Linked DNA regions of Homo sapiens: regions 2, 3 and 4 are each reported to be linked to region 1. The links are microRNA targets in miRTarBase. Many come from high-throughput screens and were not tested one by one. Region 1 holds a microRNA gene; each other region holds the end of a gene's coding sequence. Distances are between the middles of the regions.
Evidence for each region. The annotated mature microRNA hsa-miR-1825 reads UCCAGUGCCCUCCUCUCC and lies in region 1 at 923-940, shown strand. An mRNA with a match to its seed (bases 2 to 7 or 8) in the 3' UTR can be bound and repressed. Matches are read on the target gene's strand: a 7mer-m8 pairs with bases 2 to 8, a 7mer-A1 pairs with bases 2 to 7 and ends in A, and an 8mer does both.

Region 1 (3,163 bases):
AAGGCTGCCCAGCTGGTGGTGTTAAGCCAGAATTTGACCTCCCAGAGCCAGTTTCCATTAGCTGCCATGCTCTGCTGCCTCTAATTCACAGAATGCACTTTCTACCCTGTGTGCCATGGAGACCTCCTATGGAAAAATGATCAGCCACCTTACCTTCTACTGGGTACCTGCTGTGAGTCTGCCTATGCCAGAAGGATTAAGGAGGGGAGGTTACCCAAGAAACAAAGCCTACATGCCGCTTACAGCCCCCGTTGGATGGTTGCTCAGTACAACAGTCTTGCATTCAGCAGGTGTTTGTTCATCACCTACTATGTGTCAGGCTCTATGCTAGGTACTGGGGATACAGGAGAGAATCAAGCGTAAAGTCTTTGTTCTCAAGGAATTTGCATTCTAGAAAGTAGAAGATGTAATAAATGTACTGTGGGACATGTTAATAAGTGCTATAAAGAAATATAAAGGGTTTGGGAGCAAAAAGAGGGAGTGGATCTATTTTAGATGAGCCCAGGTAAGACCTCTCTGAAGAGCTGTCATGAAGGAGGGAGGGAGCACATTCCTGGCAGAGAAAACAGCACGTGCAAAGGCCCCGAGACTGGAGTGTGTTCCTGAAGAGCAGCCAGGAGGCCAGCATGGCTGGAGAGGCAGGCATAGGCAGGGAACCGAGCAGCAGGTCAGAGCAGGCGAGCTGACATTCTGCAGCCTGGACGGCCATGGCAGGAAGCTTTTAGTTGGAGAGATACAGGAAGCCTCCTAGGGTTCTGAGCAGAAGAGGGGCATGAGCTGATTCACATTCTGAAGGACCTCTCTAGCTGGCCAGTGCTGAGGAGGTTGGAGAGAGAAAGGGTGAAAGCAGAGAGACCAGTGCAGGGCTGTTAACAGGGTTGCAGGCGAGAGACTGGGGTGCTGGGCTCCCCTAGACTAGGACTCCAGTGCCCTCCTCTCCCAAGAGACAAAGGCCATTGCATTGAAGGAGGTGGGAAATGATTAGATTCTGAACATATGTAATTATTTTTCAGTCTTTTTCAAAGATACAAATATTTACATAGTTTTAATCATGTAATATATACAATTTAATGTCCTAGTGTTTTACTTAATAGTGTATCATGTTTTCCCTGTTGGTATGTAGCCTGGATAAATGCTCTTAATTATAAAAAATTCTGTCGAGGAGTGTTCCATAGTTTATTGTTTTCCTATTATGAGAATTTAGGCCAAGTGTGGTGGCTCATGCCTGTAATCCCAGCACTTTGCGAGGCCGAGGTGGGCAGATCACTTGAGGTGAGGAGTTCAAGACCAGCCTGGCCAACATGGTGAATTATCTCTACTAAAAATACAAAAAAATAATAATAATAGCCAGGCGTGGTGGCACATGCCTGTATTCCCAGCTGCTTGGGAGGCTGAGGCAGGAGAATGGCTTGAACCTGGGAGGTGGAGGTTGCAGTGAGCCGAGATGGTGCCACTGCATTCCAGCCTGGGCAACAGAGCGAGACTCCATCTCAAAAAAAAGGAGACTTCATGTGCCCCCAATTTTTCACTATTGTTATTTGAAAAAATATTTTTATTTGTAAGAGTTTTTCTTTATTTAAAATGTTCATTAATAAAGTTGTTGGACGGGAAGCAAAAAAAAAAAGTTGTTTAAGATAAATTCCCAGAAGTGAATTTGTTAGATCAAACACTTAAAACTTTTTGTTATGGAAGAATTCAAATATAAATAAAAAATTGTGAGTAATAAAATGAACTCACAGTTTCAACAATGACCCACATTTTACCAGTCTAGTTGCATTGACTCTCCCACACCCAAGTCTGTTTGCTAGAGTCTTCAAGAAAACCTAAATGTGTTTTGAAAGAAGAGCCAACAGGATTTGCTGACATGCTGAATGTGGACTGGGAAGGAAAGAGGAGCCCAGGGTGCTCCAAGATTTAGGGCCCAGGCACCAGGGAGTTGTCCCTGACTTGCAGAGTGACCTTGAAGCAAATCCCTTCACCTCCGCATTCCTCACCTCAGCATTACAGGTGCTAATGGTCTAGGCAGTGCTTCCCAAAGGGTGGTCTTCAGAGGTTCCTTCCAGGGCTGGTTGATATGGCAGATTCCCAGGAGCCACCCTGAACCTGAGAATCAGAATGTCTCGGGGGTAGTGCCCAGGAATCTGCCTTTTCACAAGCACCTGCAAGTGATTTGGATGCCCAGTGGCCCAAGACCTGAAACTGTGGTCGTCAGACCAGCGGCATCAGCATCACCTGGGGGAACTTGCTAGAAATGCAGAATCCCAGGCCCCCGCCCAGAACCACTGAGTCAGGATCTCTGGGGACGCAGCCCAGGAATCTCTTAAGCTCTCTTGGGGCTAAAACTTGAGCAACACTGATCTGAAGGAAGTGGGGATCTCACTGTGTGGTCATTCAGCCCACGGTAATGGAAGACCTCTGCAGCCCCTCCCTGGCAAGCCTCACGGGTTCCACCAGGCATGGTCAACAAGGTGGCTTTAGGAACTGCCTGCTGCCCAGTTTGTACTGACCTACATCTCCTATTGTATATTTGTAGGGGCTTTACAACCAGATGATCAAATCTCATTGTTTTACGGTCAGCCCAAATTTATATATAAGAAAAGGAAGGGAAGCCTGGGCGCAGTGGCTCACTCCCATCATCCTAGCATTTTGGGAGGTTGACACAGGCCAATCGCTTGAGCCCAGGAGTTCGAGACCAGTCTGGGTAACATAGGGAAACCCCGTCTCTACAAAAAAATGCAAAAATTAGCCAGGCATGTGGCATGCATCTGTAGTCCCAGCTACTCGGGAGGCTGAGGTGGGAGGATCACTTGAGCCCAGGAGGAGGTCGAGGCTACAGTGAGCTGTGATGGCACCACTGCACTCCAGCCTGGACATTGGAGTGGGACCCTGTCTCAAAAGAGAGGAAAAAAAAAAGGGAATTCAATTTTTCAAAATTAAAAGGGAATTCCATTTTTCAAAATCTGCATCTGATTGGATAGAGAAATGGAGAAGCTGGTGTTCAAAGGAACCAAAGCTGGAAACACTGTCCTGAAACATTGTAGATCTCCAGACATTTGGAAGGGAGGGGAGAGAGAATAAGAAAATAAAGAAGAAAGAGGAGAAAGGACAGAGGGAGGAAGAAAGAGTTGAGTTCTCATTTCTATTTTCTGTTCAAAGAAGCTCA
Region 2 (3,163 bases), 22 Mb from region 1:
ACGCTCTCTGGTAGGGAAAATTATTAAAAATGAAAATTAAAAAAGCAATGATTCTGAAAAAATATATTCGTTCATTAAAAAAAAAAAATGAAAATTAAGCTTCTACGGTCACATTCAAATAGAGCCATAGCCGTCATTCTGGGAAGACAAAAGAAAGGATGGCCCATGCTGACCAAGGAGGTTTTAAGTGGTTTCACCCAAGAGGAAGCATTGGACCCGGACCCAGAAGGGTGAATGGATTTTTAAGGGGTAACCTGAGTTCTGTTTCTTTTCCCCCTTTTCTAGGCTGATTCCAACAAAACCAGAATTGATGAGGCCAACCAACGTGCAACAAAGATGCTGGGAAGTGGTTAAGTGTGCCCACCCGTGTTCTCCTCCAAATGCTGTCGGGCAAGATAGCTCCTTCATGCTTTTCTCATGGTATTATCTAGTAGGTCTGCACACATAACACACATCAGTCCACCCCCATTGTGAATGTTGTCCTGTGTCATCTGTCAGCTTCCCAACAATACTTTGTGTCTTTTGTTCTCTCTTGGTCTCTTTCTTTCCAAAGGTTGTACATAGTGGTCATTTGGTGGCTCTAACTCCTTGAGGTCTTGAGTTTCATTTTTCATTTTCTCTCCTCGGTGGCATTTGCTGAATAACAACAATTTAGGAATGCTCAATGTGCTGTTGATTCTTTCAATCCACAGTATTGTTCTTGTAAAACTGTGACATTCCACAGAGTTACTGCCACGGTCCTTTGAGTGTCAGGCTCTGAATCTCTCAAAATGTGCCGTCTTTGGTTCCTCATGGCTGTTATCTGTCTTTATGATTTCATGATTAGACAATGTGGAATTACATAACAGGCATTGCACTAAAAGTGATGTGATTTATGCATTTATGCATGAGAACTAAATAGATTTTTAGATTCCTACTTAAACAAAAACTTTCCATGACAGTAGCATACTGATGAGACAACACACACACACACAAAACAACAGCAACAACAACAGAACAACAACAAAGCATGCTCAGTATTGAGACACTGTCAAGATTAAGTTATACCAGCAAAAGTGCAGTAGTGTCACTTTTTTCCTGTCAATATATAGAGACTTCTAAATCATAATCATCCTTTTTTAAAAAAAAGAATTTTAAAAAAGATGGATTTGACACACTCACCATTTAATCATTTCCAGCAAAATATATGTTTGGCTGAAATTATGTCAAATGGATGTAATATAGGGTTTGTTTGCTGCTTTTGATGGCTATGTTTTGGAGAGAGCAATCTTGCTGTGAAACAGTGTGGATGTAAATTTTATAAGGCTGACTCTTACTAACCACCATTTCCCCTGTGGTTTGTTATCAGTACAATTCTTTGTTGCTTAATCTAGAGCTATGCACACCAAATTGCTGAGATGTTTAGTAGCTGATAAAGAAACCTTTTAAAAAAATAATATAAATGAATGAAATATAAACTGTGAGATAAATATCATTATAGCATGTAATATTAAATTCCTCCTGTCTCCTCTGTCAGTTTGTGAAGTGATTGACATTTTGTAGCTAGTTTAAAATTATTAAAAATTATAGACTCCAGATGATCTGCTTTAATTTCTTCATGGACTCGTCTGATTTTGCACTCACACGAGAAGAGAAAGCCTGGCTACCCTATCCCAGCTACTAAAAGCCAGTTCTGTGCACCGAGGACAGTGTGGGGGAAAATAGAAGATTTAAGCATGATTCCAGTGGCAACTGACAACTTGGCTTGATTCTCATAACCTGCTCCAGAATTACTTTGTGAATTCAGTGTTGACTAAGGGAGAAAATGTAGTTATCCAGAACACATAGAAAGAAAAATTTATAGGAAAAAAATCTATGGTACCCAGGCATGGCCCTACATAGATTCAGGTATATCTGGTGTCTGTCAACTCCAATCTTCCTTCCTTTCCACAAAATCCCCACCATCTAAAATTGAGGGCTTCACTACCACACCACCACTGACTCCATGTTTTTTTAAACAGCTTTACTGACTCACTATAAAATTCATCCATTTAAATATATAATTAATTTCTTTTGTATATTCACTGAGGTAGCAATCTAATTTTAGAACATCTTTATCACTGCCGCCAAAATACCCCATACCTATTAGCAATCACTCCCATCTCACTTCTCCCAGCCCTAGGGAATTACTGGTTTACTAGTTATCTCTATAGATTTGCCTATACATTTCATATAAATGGCATCATACAATGTGTGGTCTTCGGGAACTGGCTTCTTTCACTTAATATAATGTTTTCAAGGTTCCTCCATGTTGTATCACAGATCAGTACTTCATTCTTTTTTAAGGCCAAATAATATTCTATTGTATGCATAGATACTATTTTGTTTATCCATGTATCAGGTTATGAATATTTGCATTGTTTCTGCTTTTTGACTTTTTTTTTTTTTTTTTTTTGAGACAGAATCTTGCTCTGTCGCTCAGGTTGGAGTGCAGTGGCATGATCTCGGCTCACTACAACCTCTACCTTCCGGTTCAAGTGCTTATCCTTCCTCAGCCTCCCAAGTAGCTGGGATTACAGGCGCCTGTCACCACGCCCAGCTTTTTTTTTTTTTTTTTTTTTTTTTTTTTTGTATTTTTAGTAGAGAGTAGGTTTCACCATGTTGTCCAGGCTGGTCTCAAACTCCTGACCTCAGGTGATCCACCTGCCTTGGCCTCCCAAAGTGCTAGGATTACAGGCATGAGCCACCACGCCTGGCCACTTTTTGACTATTATGAATAATGCTGCTATGAACATTGATGTAAAAGTTTTTGTGTAGACATAAGATTTTTTATTCACTTGCCCCACAGTTTTACCAACATCATTGCCTGTCCCACCACAACCACCACTAACACCTCCACCGCCATCACCTCCACCATCACTATCCCTACTCCTACTAACACCACCACTGCCTCAATTATCACCACCTTACCTTTTCCACTGGCTCTACCACCTCCACACCATCTTAACCAGCATGCCCATTACCTCCACCTTTATTACCACCACCATTATAATCACCATCATCACCTCCATCACCACCACCGCTCCCACTGCCACCATCACCACCACCACCTGACCATCCATCTCCTCTGCCAACATCATCATCATCACTTCCATCACCTCTGCCACCTCCTCCACCTCTCTCT
Region 3 (3,163 bases), not on the chromosome of region 1:
CACTCTGATGGCCACTGGGCACCCCATGGTGATCAGCTCTGATGACCCAGCTATGTTTGGTGCCAAAGGCTTGTCCTATGATTTCTATGAGGTCTTCATGGGCATTGGGGGGATGAAGGCTGACCTGAGGACCCTCAAACAGCTGGCCATGAACTCTATCAAGTGAGTGTCCTGTGTCCTCCCAGGTCCCCCGCCTCCTTCCAGCCCGCAGCTTGTGTTTGCCTCTCTGGAGGCTTGAGGCAGATGCCTCGATGGTTCCTGTGGGTTCCTTCTCATCATGGCTGTTTAGTCCTTGCTGCTGGCCTGGGGAGAGTGCTCTGCAAGGCTCTAATGTCCTCTCAGGCTCCCTGCCCCGTTCCCCAACCCCTGCCCTGAGGCTGACCTGGGCTCCTCCTCTTCCTGCAGGTACAGTACCCTGTTGGAGAGTGAGAAAAATACTTTCATGGAAATCTGGAAGAAGAGATGGGATAAGTTCATAGCAGATGTGGCTACAAAGTGAGGAGAAGCTAGCCAGCCCTCTACAAGCTGTCTTCTTGCACACGCTGTCACTTCCTCTCACTCGTTCTTGAATCAGCTCCATGTGCCCATGAAATCAATGGCCTCTGTATGGAGCGACCCTGTGAGAAGCACTTGGCTGGCTGAGCAAATTCATCCTCTGGAAATATTCTCTCTCAGCCACAGTGACATTGACCCTCTTGGTTTTCTCCTGTCTCTGGCCATTTCTTCCAGTTTCCCTATTTCAGAGTCTTCTCCTCTCTCTGATCTCTGTGCTGTTTCCTCAGGACTCAGTCCTGGGCTCTCTTCTATTCTGGTCTCTTTATTTTTTTATTTTTGTATTTTTTCGAGATGGAGTTTTGCTCTTGTTGCCCAGGCTGGAGTACAATGGTGCGATCTCAGCTCAGTGCAACCTCCGCCACCCGGGTTCAGGCAATTCTCTTGCATCAGCCTCGCGAGTAGTTGGAATTATAGGCATGTGCCACCACACCCAGCTGATTTTTGCATTTTTAGTAGAGACAGGTTTTCACCATGTTGGCGAGGCTGGTATCCAACTCTTGACCTCAGGTGATCCACTCGCCCCTTGGCTCCCAAAGTGCTGGAATTACAGGCATTAGCCACCATGCCTGGCCTATTCTGGTCTCTTTAACTCTCTCCTCTTTATTTCTCTTCTCTCTCTGTACACTTTTCCTGGGTGGTCTCATCCATTCCTTTGCTTTTTCATACCATTTATTTGTTAATGATTCCCACATTTATTTATGCACTTGGAGAGCTCACAGGAATCTCAGAAACTGATGAGGTACAATTCTGAACCCTCAGTCTCTTCCCTTTAAACCTTTCTTTTTCTCTACTTTAATTTTTCTAAAGAGTGTCTTGCTATGTTGCCCAGGCTGGTCTCCAACTCAAGTGATCCTCCTGCCGCAGTCTCCCGAAGTGCTGGGATTACTGACATGAGCCACCACACTCAGCCCTTTAAACCTTTCCCTGGCCTTTCCCATAGCTGGTGAAGGACACCTCCATCCATTCCACGCAGTTGCTCAAAGCAGAAATTTTCAGTGCAAGTCTTGATGCTGCGCCGTCCCCCACTCCCTACATCAGAACGCATCCCTCATCTGGACTCCAGCGGTGGCTTCTTGATGCTGCGCGGTCCCCCACTCCCTACATCAGAATGCATCCCGCATCCAGACTCCAGCGGTGGTGCTCTACCTGCACGCTGTTGCCAAGTCCAAGCTACCATACTCCTGCCTGAGCTATGACAACAGCCTCCTCACTGATCTCCCCTTTCTTCCCTTTGCCTCCTCCAGCTCATTTTTCACAGTGTAGAATGACATTTTGTTTGTTTGTTTTGTTTTGTTTGAGATGGAGTCTCGCTCTGTTGCCCAGGGTGGAGTGCAGCGGTGCGATCTCGGCTCACTGCAACCTCCACCTCCCGGGTTCAAGCGGATTCTCGTGCCTCAGCCTCCTGAGTAGCTGGGATTACAGGCATGCACCACCATGCCCGGATAATTTTTGTATTTTTAGTAGAGATGGGGTTTCACTATGTTGGCCAGGCTGGTCTCGAACACCTGACCTCGTGGTCCACCCGCCTCGGCCTCCCAAAGCACTGGGATTACAGGCGTGAGCCACCCGGCCTGGCCTAGAATGACTTTTAAAAGATCAAATTAAATCAGGTCACTCCTTTGCTTACAACGCAGTGCGTTTAGAGGTACACCCCATGTCTCCACAGGGCATACAGCATCCGATTTAATCTGGATCCATTCCGGCGCCTTCCTCTCCCAGTCACCCAGAGGGCCCCAACCCCGGCGGCCCTTTCTTCCTCAAATGTCCTCGGCTCTATACCGTGCCTGGGTCTTTTCTCTTTCTCTCTGCCTGGAAGATTCCTTCTTTCCCCTTTTGTCTTGCCCACTCCTGTTTACCCTTCAAGTTTCAAGTTCATGTCACTGTCTCAGAGAGGTTTTCCTGTGCTCGCCCTGTTTCTCTCAGGAAGCCTTGCTCTTTTCCATCATGCCTCTAATCACAGCTTATAATCGGATATTTATTTCTGTGTCTACAGTCTTGCCCTGCCAGACTGTATGCCCCATGTGGGCAGGCGCTCATGATTGTTTCTGATTGTTTCACGCATGCTGCTAACCCAGAGCCTGGGCCCAAAGCTAGTTAGTACTCAATAAACAATGCATTGAATGAGTGGCTGTCACTGTGTCTGTTCAGCCAGCTGCCAAGGCAGAGGGGAGTAGAGCAGAGCCGCCCCAAATAAAAGACCTCATGTGATCAGAGTCCAGCTCCTCACCTGGCCTTGGAAGAAGGATGCAAGAAGCCACCTCTGTCCTCACCCAACTCAAGGATGGCAGGGAATCAAAGAATTCCTCAAAAGCCCCAGGCGAATGTCCTCTCATCCATCTTCCATGACCTGTACCTGAGCTCTCAGACAGCAGCAAGCCCTCTCTCCATTCCTAGTTTATCACCATTTGGTTCCTGGAACTGGGAAAAAACAGCAACCATAAGCTGTGCCTGGATGGAAGAAGACAACCTCTAGGGTCCTGTCTAACTCTGCAGGTGATTCAGTGCCTTACCCAATCCCTGAAGATCTTTTAGGTCCCAACTGCGCAGGGGACCTCCAACACAGGCAGACGCAAACAGCCTCTGGCCTGGACTTGCTGTGATCTCTGAT
Region 4 (3,163 bases), not on the chromosome of region 1:
CTGAATATAACCAGTGCCCTGGGCTCTGCATGGCAGTTGACTTGCCAATATCTCAATTAAAGTGACTAGGCACAGTGGCTCACACTTGTAATCCCAGCACTTTAGGAGGCCGAGGCCAGGAGCTTGAGACCAGCTGGAGAACATAGTGAGATCCTGTCTCTACAAAAAAATTTAAAAATACATACTTTTTAGACAGGTGTGGTAGATCACACCTGGTGCCTGGTGGCTCCCAGCATTTTGGGAGGCTGAGGACAGGAGGATCATCTGAGCCCAGGAGTTCAAGACCAGCCTAGGCAACAGAGCAAGACTCCATCTCTAAAAAACTAAAAACATTAGCCAGGTGTAGTGGCACACACCTATAGTTGCAGCTACATGGGAGGCCAGGGCAAGAGGATCGCCTGAGCCTAGGAGTTTGAGGCTGCAGTGAGCTACAGACTGCACCACTGCACTCCAGCCAGTAGATTAGAAATGTTTGTGAGAAGGTACCTTAATGGATGGGCAAGATGGACAGCAGCTATAGTAATTATTCATAGCAGCACTCTAGAAATAAAAACTAGATCTTATGTGGCAGGGCTGTGAAAATGCTTTTGTCAAAATTTAAAATTACAGATTAACACCTATGAGGCTGCAGGCACAGGGGTCACGCTGATGAAGGCATAAACCCTGCTCTCAAGTAGCTCACATCCAGTGAAAGGCTCAAACCACAAACAGGGAAGTACGTGAGATTAATTCGTTCAAGGATCAAACAAATGCCTCTTTTCACCCGATGCCACATTTCATTAAATAGTTTGTAGCAGTGATACTATAAAATGTGAGCTTTAAAGAACTCTGGTAACATTTTCAATCTCTTCCTTTCTCCGTACTCTTCTATTTCCCCCCAATTTCTCCAATCCACTCCTAATTTTCACTTGTATCTTTCTTCTACAAAAAACCTAAATATGCCAATTTTACTCTTCTTCCTTCCAGTTAGTAAAATCAATGAAATCACAATTTGAAACAAAATTATAAGTTGTCACACAATATGAAAAATATGAAATTCCTGATGATTCAAGTAGTTTTGATCTATAAAAGCAGCAATTTCATGATTCATCAGTCACTCCCAAGTCCTTGCTTTTATAATTTTTAAATGTGGATTTTATATATTTAGAAATTAAGTACAATGGCAGCAATATGACTATATATTGGCAAGTAACCTGGTGATTTCCAATTTATAAATCTGAGAGCTGTTTCCCATACCTGAAGCCTAACAGCCAATCTGATCCAAATCCAATCTTTCTGTCACTGTCAGCTACTTATTAAAATAATAAGATTTCATTTCTACTTGGAAACAAAATCTTTAACCTGAGTTTCCAGTATTCAAAATATTGCTATTTAGATGTCGGATGCTTAACATTTCATGCCAAAGTCTCACGTGAATGATCTGACATAAGATAGAACATACTACTCAGCAACAAAAAAAATGCACAACTGACACACAGGGATCAATCTCAAAAATCTGCAGAGAGGAAGAAGGCAAAGTACATACTACAGTATTCTATTTACATGAATTCTACAATGGATAGATCTAATCGGTAACCAAAAGCAAATCTGTGGCTGCCTAGGGCTAGGGGTAGAGGAATTGATTGGGAAAGGGGGTATGAGAATTTTGGGGGCAATGAAAATATTTGTATCTTGATCGTGATAGTGGCTGCACAGAGGTATGAATCTGTCAAAACCCAATAAAATACACACGTAAAAAGGGTGCAATAAATCTAAGTAAATAGTACCTCAATTCAGTTGATTTACAAAACACAACATGACAGTATATTTTAAATTAAATGAAACATTAAGACCTTATTTTTTAAAAAAATTAATGTTATGGATAAAGCTAAAGTTCCCTCTGACCACCCTCCCAATCCTGATTTGCACCCCTAATCTCTCATCTATACCTCCTACTCGCTGTTAGAACTTTGGTATGGATTCCTCTGAACCTTTAAAAATAGATTTACGTACATTATATAGCCATAGAGAATGCATAGTATTGTTTTGTACATATATATAATTTGTATATAACTTTCTACAACTTGCTATTTTCACTGAGCATTATGTTTTTGAGACCAATCCAGGTTAATATGGATCTAGATTATTTCTTTTAACTCCAATACAATAATCTATCCTATGACTACATCATATTTTAATTAGGCCATTCCTCTTCAATATTTAGATTGTTTTTCCCTACTACAATTCACCAGTGTAGTGGTAAACAGTAGTCACCACTGGGGTGAGGACAGAACCGCAGGTGGTGTTCTAAGGGTTATTAGCCTTATTTATAAGATGTAGTTATAAGATGAGAATGTATTCATGTTTAATTTACATATGATAAATATTGACTTAAAGAATTTTGAGATACATATATTAGCAAAACGAACAAAACAACATCAGTTATAGGAAGCAAATCATCTAATAAAATATAAGGAAAACAAAGTTGTAGGGCCTAATAGTGTACTCATGGTTTGAAGCATATTTACTGGAAAATAATAAGCACTAAACAGATCATAAAAAAAATAATAAGCACTAAACAGATCATAAAAACATTCTCCTATGCAAAGGAATTCCAATTAATATATCTGTATATTGGTTATCATGGCGTAAGCATAATTAATATAGGTACAAGTACTTCATTTATATTTTTTGCTTTCTTCTTTTATGACTATGGTGTCTTTCCCCATCCCTGAAATAAAAGAGGTATAAAAAAATGGTTATAAATGATGGACATTTTAATATCAGAGCTTTAAAATAATTCAACAGTAATACACCACTTTCAACAGTAATATGCTACTTTAACATTCTATTTGAAAAGAATTTTCTGGTTATCATTTACATATACTCAAAGTTAATTTTAAAGCAGAATTTCAAAGCGTAATTAAAAAAAAATCACTTTGATTATTCCTATTTCAGTTTCGTCTCTTAGTTTTTTTATTTGTTTGTTTCTGTTTTTTTGAGATGGAGTTTCACTCTTGTTGCCCAGGCTGGAGCGCAAATGGCACGATCTTGGCTCACTGCAACCTTCGCCTCCCGGATTCAAGCGATTCCTGCCTCAGCCTCCCAAGCAGCTGGATTTCAGGCGCGAACCACCACACCTGGCTATTTTTTGTATTTTTAGTAGAGTCAGGGTTTCACCATG

Region 2: the mRNA of SNAP25 is a reported target of hsa-miR-1825. The part of its 3' UTR that is shown has no 7-base or 8-base seed match.
Region 3: the mRNA of ADA2 is a reported target of hsa-miR-1825. Seed matches in the 3' UTR shown: 7mer-m8 at 2,096-2,102.
Region 4: miRTarBase lists SNRNP48 as a target of hsa-miR-1825. Seed matches in the 3' UTR shown: 7mer-A1 at 684-690 and 7mer-m8 at 11-17.

Annotation. Positions count from the first base shown.
Region 1 is chr20:32,236,908-32,240,070 of GRCh38, forward strand. It overlaps MIR1825 (microRNA 1825), which reads left to right and starts at 888; the gene lies at 888-940. POFUT1 (protein O-fucosyltransferase 1) reads left to right here. Exons shown (of 7, transcript NM_015352.2): 7 at 1-1,751.
Region 2 is chr20:10,305,844-10,309,006 of GRCh38, forward strand. It overlaps SNAP25 (synaptosome associated protein 25), which reads left to right. Exons shown (of 8, transcript NM_130811.4): 8 at 286-1,575. The coding sequence ends at 354. Among named protein-coding and RNA genes, the nearest start is that of SNAP25-AS1, 88 kb to the left of the region's middle.
Region 3 is chr22:17,178,819-17,181,981 of GRCh38, reverse strand. It overlaps ADA2 (adenosine deaminase 2), which reads left to right. Exons shown (of 10, transcript NM_001282225.2): 9 at 1-162; 10 at 406-3,163. The coding sequence ends at 499. Among named protein-coding and RNA genes, the nearest start is that of HDHD5-AS1, 21 kb to the right of the region's middle.
Region 4 is chr6:7,608,372-7,611,534 of GRCh38, reverse strand. It overlaps SNRNP48 (small nuclear ribonucleoprotein U11/U12 subunit 48), which reads right to left. Exons shown (of 9, transcript NM_152551.4): 9 at 1-2,710. The coding sequence ends at 2,662. Among named protein-coding and RNA genes, the nearest start is that of SNRNP48, 20 kb to the right of the region's middle.